Regions from separate parts of the Homo sapiens genome. Here region 2 is linked to region 1. Evidence: fine-mapped expression QTL. A gene starts in region 1. The other region holds a variant in brackets. All regions are shown on one strand. Distances are between the middles of the regions.

The links. PIP is the estimated chance that this variant, and not a neighbour inherited with it, causes the effect. A credible set is the group of variants that fine-mapping cannot tell apart.
Region 2: its variant is the best candidate, but not a certain one, in a credible set for the expression of LGALS4 in lung (TOPMed, PIP 0.51).

The regions. Positions count from the first base shown.
Region 1 is chr19:38,810,093-38,815,468 of GRCh38, forward strand. LGALS4 (galectin 4) reads right to left here and starts at 2,853. Exons shown (of 10, transcript NM_006149.4): 1 at 2,750-2,853; 2 at 2,339-2,427. The coding sequence starts at 2,794. It overlaps ECH1 (enoyl-CoA hydratase 1), which reads right to left. Exons shown (of 10, transcript NM_001398.3): 10 at 5,330-5,376.
Region 2 is chr19:38,759,858-38,765,233 of GRCh38, forward strand. No RefSeq gene overlaps it. Among named protein-coding and RNA genes, the nearest start is that of LGALS7, 11 kb to the right of the region's middle. The variant G/A (reference allele first, on the strand shown) is at 3,108.

The sequences.
Region 1 (5,376 bases):
ATCCCTCTCTCCGTTCCTTCTGTTCTTTGCTGATATGTTCCCTTCCCAGGCAGGCCTTCTCTGGCCACCTTTTTAATTTTTTTGAGACAGTCTCCCTTTGTCACCTAGGCTGGAGTGCAGTGATGCGATCTCAGCTCACTGCAAACTCTGCCTTCAGGATTCAAGTGATTCTCCCACATCAGGCTCTCAAGTAGCTGGGATTACAGGCACCTGTCACCATGCCTGGCTAATTTTGTATTTTCAGCAGAGATGAGATTTCGCCTTTTTTTTTTTTTTTTTTTTTTTTTTGAGATGGAGTCTCGCTCTTTCGCCCAGGCTGGAGTGCAGTGGCGCAATCTTGGCTCACTGCAAGCTCCGCCTCCTGGTTTCACGCCATTCTCCTGCCTCAGCCTCCCGAGTAGCTGGGACTACAGGCACCCGCCACCATGCCCAGCTAATTTTTTGTATTTTTAGTAGAGACGGGGTTTCACTGTGTTAGCCAGGATGGTCTCGATCTCCTGACCTCGTGATCCGCCCGTCTCTGCCTCCCAAAGTGCTGGGATTACAGACGTGAGCCACCACGCCCAGCCAGATGCGATTTTGCCATTTTGGCCAGGCTAGTCTCGAGCTCCTGACCTCAGGTGATCTGCCTGGCTTAGCCACCCAAAGTGCTGGGATTACAGGCGTAAGCCACCATGCCCGGCCAGGCCACCCTATTTAAGGGGACAATTTAAAGGGAACCTCTGTCCGCACATACACTCCCCATCTCCCTTCCCTCCTCATTTTCTTCATAGCACTTAATATCATCTGACATCTTACATATTTGACTTTTTTTTTTTTTTTTTTTGAGACAGAGTCTCACTCTTGTTGCCCAGGCTGTAGTGCAATGGCACGATCTCGGCTCACCGAAACCTCCACTTCCCAGGTTCAAGTGATTCTCCTGCCTCAGCCTCCTGAGTAGCTGGGATTACAGGCATGCGCCACCACGCCCTGGTAATTTTGTATTTTTAGTAGAGACAGGGTTTCTCCATTTTGGTCAGGCTGGTCTTGAACTCCCGATCTCAGGTGATCTGCCTGCCTAGGCCTCCTAAAGTGCTGGGATTACAGGCCTGAGCTACCGCGCCCGGCCTGGACTTATTTTTTATGTTTCCCCTACTAGGACATCAGCTCCACGAGGGCAGGGGTCTCTGTCCTGTTCACTCCTCCATCCCTAGTGCCAGGACACAGAATAGGCACTCAGTGAAGAAGTAAACAATAAATAAATAAACAACAGGCTGGGCAGAGTGGCTCATACCAGTGCCTGATCCTCCCAGCACTTTAGGAGGCCGAGGCTAGAGGATCGCTTGAGCACAGGAGTTCAAGACCAGCCTGGGCAACATAACAAGACTTTGTCTCTACAAAACAAATAATAATAATAAATAAAAATTAAAAATTAAATTAGTTGGGCATGGTGGCACATGTCTGTAGTCCCATCTGCTTGGAAAGATGAGGTAGGAGGATCACTTTAGCCCAGGAGTTGGAGGCCGAAGTGAGCTATAATATTGTGCCACTGCACTCCAGCTTGGGCAACAGAGCAAGACCCTATCTCTAAGGAAAAAAAAAGTCCTATGAGGCCAATCATTATCAACGTGTTAAGGCCCTTTTTAAAAAGCTAAGACTGGGCCAGGCGCAGTGGCTCACGCCTGTAATCCCAGCACTTTGGGAGGCCGAGATGGGAGGATCACTTGAGGTCAGGAGTTCGAGACCAGCCTGACCAACATGGTGAAACCCCATCTCTACTAAAAATACAAAAATTAGCCAGTGTGCTGGCACATGCCTGTAATCCCAGCTACTCAAGAGGCTGAGGCAGGAGAATCGCTTGAACCTGGGAGACAGAGGTTGCAGTGAGCCAAGATCATGCCATTGCACTCCAGCCTGGGCGACAAGAGCAAAACTCCATCTCAAAACAAAAAAAAAAACAAAAAAAACAAAAACAGAAAAGAAAAGAAAATGAAGCACAGAGAGGTATAGTCACTTTCACTCTTTCACCAACACAGAGCTGGGGAGTGGCAGAGCTGGGATTTTAACTCGGGGACCCGGCTCTGAGCCTGTGATCTGAATTCCTGCCATTGCACCCATCAGCTTCAGTCTAATGTCCAACTCAGGGACTGCCTCTCACGGTGAGCCCTCCCTGAACCTTCTGGCCCCCACGTCCCCACTCCTGATCTGCCCCAGATTCATCTCTGGCTATTGGGTGGGGCAGAAAAAGAGTCCCCTCTCCACCAGGGTGGGGTAAGGGCAGAAAGCCCCCAACAGCCAGGCCCAGAGCACCCAGTTGGAAGTCCCCTGCCAGCCCGGCCTGGCTTGGGGAGGGTCTTACCGCTTCATGTGCTCGCTGGCCACTCCTTGGATGTAAACAGACATTCCCACGTTGAGCCCGCCCGGGATGGGCTGGTAGTAAGGCAGCGTCTGGAGAAGAGGCCTGGTGAGGGGACTCACAAGCCATCTGCCTGTTGCAGCCTTTACCCCTCCCAGAAAAGCCCCCCAGTCCCTTAAGCAGGAGAGAGGAAACCATGGGGGAGGACCAGGTTGAAGATGACGAGGGCCAACAGTTAGACGTGGACACAGACAGCCTGAGGTCAGGGTAGGAGTAAATCGAGGGTCGGGGTCAGCTTTGGGTAAATCAGACCACAGAGTCAGATGGGGCCCCCCAGGATCAGAGTGGGGAAAATTGGTGTGAGGGCTTATGGACGGAGCTGCGGGCGGAGTGGGGCCTGAGCTGGCATCTCACCGGGTTGTAGGTGGGCTGGTAGCCCGGTGCGGGGACATAGGCCATCGCTCGAGGCTGCGCTAGTGGCTGGTCCTGTGAGAAGAGCTGCAGGAGTGGGAGATGGTGGCGGATGGCAGGCGGTGGTGGCTCTTATACCCAGGGTAAGGGAGTGGCTGGCAGGGGAGGGTCCACAGGGCTCCTCTTCTGGGACTCTCAGGCTGTCGGCTTCTCCTAGAGCGCACCCTAGTCTCCCTTCCCTTGCCAGCTTCCCTGGTGACCAGCCAGGACCCAAATCACCTGGGTCCCCTCCCCTACGCCCTCCTGCAAAGAGGAAGTGCTCATGAACTTCGGCCCTGCCAGGGCCTTATCAGAGCCCATAAAACCCTGCCCAGACTTCTGTTGGCAGAGGGAGGGTGAGACCAGGCAGGGCAGGGCAGGCTGCAGGAATGACCCAGGACAGGTGGGCAGCGGAGGAGGAGAACGCGGAGGAACTGCAAATTCCTGCCTCTCCCAGCAACTGTGAAGGGACCTACGTTGATTGCGTGCCCACCACACATCTTTACCACGTATGTTGTATTGTAGGGAGAGTGGTTTAGATTACTAGTGTGTGGAGCCAGAGGTTCTAGGTTCAAATCCTGCCTTTGCCACTTCTCAGCTGTATGATCATGGGTCAGTGCCTTACCCTCAATTTGCCCATGTGCTCATCTGTAAAATGGGGATATAGTAGTATCGGCTGGGTGCAGTGGCTCATGCCTGTAATCCCAGCACTTTGACTGGCCGAGGTGGATGGATCACCTGAGGGCAGGAGTTCGAGACCAGCCTGGCAAAATCCCAGTCTCTACTAAAAATACAAAAATTAGCCAGGCATGGTGGTGGGTGCCTATAATCCCATCTACTTGGAGGCTGAGGCAGGAGAATCACTTGAACCTGAGTGGAGGAGAGTGCAGTGAGCCAAGGTCACGCCACTGCACTCCAGCTTGGATGACAGATGGAGACTCTGTTTCAAAAAAAAAAAAAAAAAAAAAGGAATTCATAAGAGAGGAAACAAGTATTGAATAGCTATCAAAATATTTTAAAAATGAATTTGTGATCCAGTAATGCCTGTATGTTATTAATCTGCCAAATAAGTTCTAGCTGTGGGTCCAACTGCCACTCAGAAAAATAAATAAATAAAGAAAAGAGTAGTATCAACCTTAGGCTGGGTGTGGTGGCTTGTGCCTACAATCCCAGCAATTTGGGAAGCTGAAGCAGGAGGACTGCTTGAGCCCAGGAGTTCAAGACCAGCCTGGGCAACATAGTGAGACCCCCATCTCTACAAAAATAAAATAAAAATTAGCTGGGCATGGTAGCACACATCTGTATTCCTAGCTACTCAGAGGCTGAGGCAGGAGGATCGCTTGAACCCAGGAGTTAAGGTTACAGTGAGCTATGATCATGCCACTGCACTCCAGCCTGGGTGACAGACTAAGAGTCCGTCTCTAAAAATAGCAACAATAATAGTCATAATAATAATAATCATAATAGTATCAACTTCATAGAGTCCTTGATCATTAAGATAATAAATGCTCAGAACAGGACATAGCATATAGAAGTCATTAACTTAATGCTTGGTCTCTTGCAGTCATTCCAAACATAAATCCGGAAGATTGGGATGATATATGGATAAAAAATCCCAAAGTTTTGTTTGCTCATTTTTGAGACAGAGTCTTGCTCTATCACCCAGGCTGCAGTGCAGTGGCACCATCTCAGCTCACTGCAACCTCCACCTCCCAGGTTCAAGGGATTCTCCTGCCTCAGCCTTCTGAATAGCTGGGATTACAGGCTTACTCCACGCCTGGCTAATTTTTGTATTTTTAGTAGAGACCAGGTTTTGCCATGTTGGCCAGGCTGGTCTCAAACTCCTGACCTCAAGTGATCCACCTGCCTCAACCTCCCAAAGTGCTGGAATTACAGGCATGAGCCACTGCACCCGGCCAGAAACCCCAAAGTCCTTTTTTGTTTTGTTTTTTCTTTTTTTGAGACAGAGTCTCACTCTGTCACCCAGGCTGGACTGCAGCAGCATGATCTCAGCTCACTGCAAACTCACCTCCTGGGTTCAAGGATTCTCCTGCCTCAGCCTCCCGAGTAGCTGGGACTAGAGGCACCTGCCACCACACCTAGCTAATTTTTGTATTTTTAGTAGAGACTGGGTTTCAACATGTTGACTAGGCTGGTTGCAAACTCCTGAGCTCAGGCAATCCACCTGCGTCAGCCTCCAAAAGTGCTGGGATTACAGGTGTGAGACGCCAGCATCAGATCCCATGTGCTGTGCAGTGAGAGGTGCCAGGCAGGGCACGAACGCCACCCTCAACCCCAGGGCAGGCAGGGAGACCAGGAAGCCTTGCAACCCAGAGGGACCCCAGCGACTTTTGCTCACTCCCTCCGCCCCGGAATTCCTTGTGCCCCTCGCCTGCCCGCTGCCAGTCTGAATGGCCATCACCTCCATGCCACCCATTCCCATGCATCCAACCTCTAGCCCCAGCCTTCAGGACTGCAGTCTCTGGAGCCCCTAGGTGCATCCCAGCCCCTCCCACCTCTCCTCTATCCAAGAAGGGCACCAGGTTCTTTACTTTGCTTTATTGTTTGTGGGGTGAAGATAAGGCCTTGGG
Region 2 (5,376 bases), 50 kb before region 1:
AATCCTCCTCATTTTGCCTTTGAAAACTTCCCCTTGGCTGGGCATGGTGGCTCACACCTGTAATCCAAGCACTTTGGGAGGCTGACCCAGGCAGACCCCTAGAGTCCAGGAGTTTGAGATCGGCCTGGGCAATATGGTGAAACTCTGTCTCTAGAAAAGATACAAAAATTAGCTGGGCATGGTGGTGTGCGACTGTATTCCCAGCTACTCAGGAGGCTGAGGTGGGAGGATGGCTTGAGGACGGGAAGCGGGGGTTGCAGTGAGCCGAGATTGCACCACTGTTCTCCAACCTGGGCAACAGATCGAGATCTTGTCTCAAAATAATAATAATAATAATTATTATTGTTATTATTATTTAAAAATTTAAAACTTCGCCTTGCCTCAATCTCCTCTTTTTTTTTTTTTTTTTAAGATAAGGAGAGGCCAGCTATGCAGTGGCTCACACCTGTAATCCCAATACTTTGGGAGGCCAAGACGGGCAGATCACAAGATCAGGAGTTTGAGACCAGCCTGGCCAATATGGTGAATCCCCAACTCTACTAAAAATACAAATTAGCTGGGTGTGGTGGCAGGCACCTGTAGTCCCAGCTACTCGGGAGGCTGAGGCAGGAGAATCACTTGAACCAGGTTGCAGTGAGCTGAGATCACACCACTGCACACCAGCCTGGGCAATAGAGAGAGACTCCATCTAAAAAAAAAAACACACACAAAAAAAGAGAGAGACATAGGATTGGGCCGGGCACAGTGGCTCACGCCTGTAATCCTAGCATGTTAGGAGGCTTAGGCAGGTGGACCACCTGAGGTCTGGAGTTTCAGACCAGCCCAGTTAACATGGCAAAACCCCATCTCTACTGAAAATACAAAAATTAGCCAGGTGTGGTGGCACCTGCCTTTAGTCCCAACTACTTGGAGGCTGAGGCAGGAGAATCACTTGAACCCAGGAGGCAGAGGTTGCAGTGAGCTGATTGCATCAGTGCACTCCAGCCTGGATGAGAGAGACTCCATCTCAAAAAAAAAAGAAGAAGAAGAAAGAAAGAAAGAAGGAAGGAAGGGAGGGAGGGAGGGAGGGAGGGAGGGAGGGTGGGAGGGAAAGAAATTATTATGTGAGATAAGACAGGTGGATCTCGTGAGCCCAGGAGTTTGAGGCCATCCTGGGCAACATAATGAGACCCCCATCTCTATTAGAAAATAATAATAGTAAAAATAAAAAATAATTTAAAAAGTATTACTTCTAACTATAATGGAACTAAGCTAAAAGCCAACAATAAAATGAAATTTAGAAAATCTCTAAATATAAGAAAACTAAACAACATACTTGTAGATGACCTATGTGTCAAAGAAGGAATCTGGCTAGGTGTGGTGGCTCATGCCTATAATCCCAGCCAAGGGAGGCCAAGGCCAGTGGATCACCTTAGATCAGGAGTTCGAGACCAGCCTGGCCAACACGGTGAAACCGTGTCTCTACTAAAAAATACAAACATTAGCTGGGCGTGGTGGCTCATGCCTGTAGTCCCAGCTACTTGATAGGCTGAGGCAGGAGGATTGCTTGAACCTGGGAGGTGGAGGTTGTGGTGAGCTGAGATCACGCCACTGTACTCCAGCCTGGGTGACAGAGTGAGACTCCATCTAAAAAAAAAAAAAAAAAAAATCAAAAATGAATTTAGAAAATACCTTGAGCTGAATAAAAACAAAAACACAGGAAATAAAAATGTACAGGATGCTGGCAATGTAGTAATTAGCGGGAAACTTATAGCTTAAAAAACATATTAGTGTTGAGTCAGCCTGGTGAAAATTTTAAAAACCCCAACACATTAGAATGGAAAGAAGGCCTAAAATCAATAATTTAGGCTTCCACCTCCAAAGCTAGAAAAAGAAGAGTAAATCAAACTCAAAGAAAATAGTAAGAAGGAAGTAATAAAGATCTAAATGGACAGCAATGAAACAGAAATATAAAAACAATAGAGAAAAAGCAATGAAACTGAAATTGGCTCATTGAAAACATCAACAAAACCGGTATTGAAAAGATTAACAGGCCAGGTGTGGTGGCTCACACCTGTAATCCCAGCAGTTTGAGAGGCCAAGGTGGGTAGATCACTTGAGGTCAGGCGTTCGAGACCAGCCCGGTCGACATGGAGAAACCCTGTCTCTACTAACAATACAAAAATTAACTGGGCATGGTGGCACACACCTGTAATCCCAGCTGGAGGCTGAGACAGGAGAATCACTTGAACCCAAGAGGCCGAGGTTGCAGTGAGTCGAGATCATGCCACTGTACTCCAGCCTGGGTGACAGAGTGAGACTCTTGTCTCAAAAAAAGAAAAGATCAGCAAAACTGGGCCGGGTGCAGTGGTTCCCACCTGTAATCCCAGCACTTTGGAAGGCCGAGGCAGGTGGATCACCTGAGATCAAGAATTCAAGACCAGCCTGGCCAACATGGTGAAACCCCGTCCCTACTAAAAATACAAAAATTGGTGGGGCATGGTGGTGGGCACCTGTAATCCCAGCTACTCAGGAGGCTGAGGCAGGAGAATCGCTTGAATCCGGAGGTGGAGGTTGATGTGAGCCGAGATCACACCACTGCACTCCAGCCTTTGGCGACAGAGTGAAACTCTGTCTCAAAAACAAACAAACAAACAAACAAACTAGTATACTGGTTTTCAATGAAATCAGTTAGCTCATTAAAAAGTTCAACAAAAGAGTAAGAAAAATAAAAAAGACAGAAGCCCTCAATTACCAAAAGCAAGAATGAAGGAGGGAAAAACACTAACATGGTACACAAATTTTAAAAAATCACAGGGGAATATTATGAACAGATTTAGGTCAACTAATTAGGCAATTTAAATGAAATGAACAAATCCCTAGAGAGACACAAATTACCAAAACTGACTCAAGAACAAAATAGAAACACAGATACAATTTTTGTACAAGTATCCATTGAAATGTATTGAAAAATGAAAATGACATAGAATAAACAAAACAATTTTGAGAAAGGAGAACAAAGTTGCAAGGCATATAATGTGACTTTAAGACTCACTATTCACTTTGGGAGGTCAAGGTGGGTGGATGGCTTGAGCCCAGGAATTCCAGACCAGCCTGGGCAACATGGC[G/A]AGACCATGTCTCTCCAAAAAATACAGAAATTAACTGGGTGTGGTGGCATGTGCCTGTAGTCCCAGCTACTTAGGAGGGTGAGCCCAGGAGGTTGAAACCACAGTGAACTGTGATCGCACCACTGCACTCCAGCTTGGGAAACAAAGTGAGAATCTGTCTCAAAAAAAAAAAAAAAGAAGAAGAAGAAGCCAGGCGCAGTGGCTCATGCTTGTAATGCCAGCACTTTGGGAGGCCGAGGTGGGCAGATCACCTGAGGTCAGGAGTTCGAGACCAGCCTGACCAACATGGTGAAATCCCATCTCTACTAAAACTACAAAAATTAGCTGGGCATGGTGGCAGGCACCTGTAATCCCAGCACTCAGGAGGCTGAGGCAGGAGAATTGCTTGAACTCAGGAGGCAGAGGTTGCAGTGAGCTGAGATTGTGCCATTGCACTCCAGCCTGGGTGACAGAGAGAGACTCCGTCTTTTTTAAAGGAAAAAAAAAAAAAAGGCCAGGCGCAGTGGCTCACGTCTGTAATCTCAGCACTTTGGGAGGCCGAGGCAGGTGGATCACAAGGTCAGGAGTTAAGAGACCAGCCTGGCTAACACGGTGAAACCCCGTCTCTACTAAACATACAAAAAAATTAGCCGGGCGTGGTGGTGGGTGCCTGTAGTCCCAGCTACTCTGGAGGCTGAGGCAGGAGAATGGCGTGAACCCAGGAGGCGGAGCTTGCAGTGAGCAGAGATCACGCCACTGCACTCCAGCCTGGGCGACAAAGTAAGACTCCGTCTCAAAAAAAAAAAAAAAAAAAAAGAGAGAAAGACTCACTATAAAGCTACAGTAATCAGGAATATGCTATCATGATAAGGATAGATATATAAATCAAGGAATCAGAAGAATGATTAAGTCCAGATTTAAAACAACAAAAATGGTCAATTAATTTTTAACAAAATTGCCAATATAATTCAATGAGGAGAAAAAACAGTCACTTCAACAAATGGTGCTGAAATAACTGGACATCTATAGAGTGAGAAAAGAACCTTGACCCTTAACTCATACCACACACAAAAATTAACTAAAAATAACTAAAAATTAACTAGAAATAATATATTAACTAATGAGACAAAAATTAACTAAAGTTAGGCCGAGTGCTGTGACTCACGCCTGTAATCCCAGCACTTTGGGAGACCAAGGCGGGTGGATCACCTGAAGTCAGGAATTCAAGAACAGCCTGGCCAACATGGTGAAACCCTGTCTCTACTAAAAATACAAAAATTAGCCGGGCGTGGTGGCGGGTGCCTGTAATCCCAGATACTCAGTAGACTGAGGCAGGAGAATCGCTTGAACCCGGGAGGTGGAGATTGCAGTGAGCCGAGATCACGCCATTGCACTCCAGCCTGGTTGAGAAGAGTGAATTTCCATCTCAAAAAAAAAAAAAATTAACTAAGGTTTAAAAACTAAACTTAAATGCTAAAACTATAAACCTTCTACAATAAAATGTAAAAAGAAATCTTTGTGACAAATGTTTCTCACGAAGATTTCTTAAGCAAAGATTTAAGTAGGTCACAAAAGCACACTACATAACAGAAAAAATAACTGATAAAATGAACGCCATCACGATTAGACTTTTGTTCTGAGGAAGACATCTTTAAGAAAATAAAAAGGCTCGGTCAGGCGTGGGGGCTCACCTCTGTAATCCCAGCAGTTTGAGAGGCCGAGGCGGGTGGATCACCTGAGGTCAGGAGTTCCAGACCAGCCTGGCCAACATGATGAAACCCCATCTCTACTAAAAATACAAAAATTAGCCAGGCATGGTGGCAGGTGCCTGTAATCCCAGCTACTTGGGAGGCTGAGGCAGGAGAATCACTTGAACCTGGGAGGAGGGGGTTGCAGTGAACTGAGATTGTGCCACTGCACGCCAGCCTGAGCGACAGAGACTCTGTCTCAAAAAATAAAATAAACTAAAAATAAAGAAAATGAAAAGGCTAGCCGGGCACGGTGGCTCACACCTGTAATCCCAGCACTTTGGGAGGCCAAGGTGGGTGGATCACCTGAGGTCAGGAGTTTGAGATCAGCCTGGCCAATGTGGTGACAACCCGTCTCTACTAAAAATACAAAAATTGGCTAGCGTGGTGGCGGGCGCCTGTAATCCCAGCTACTCTGGAGGCTGAGGCAGGAGAATTGCTTGAACCTGGGAGGTGGAGGTTGCAGTGAGCCGAGATCCTGCCATTGTACTGCAGCGTGGGCAACAAGAGCAAAACTCCGTCTCAAAAAAAAAAAAAAAAAG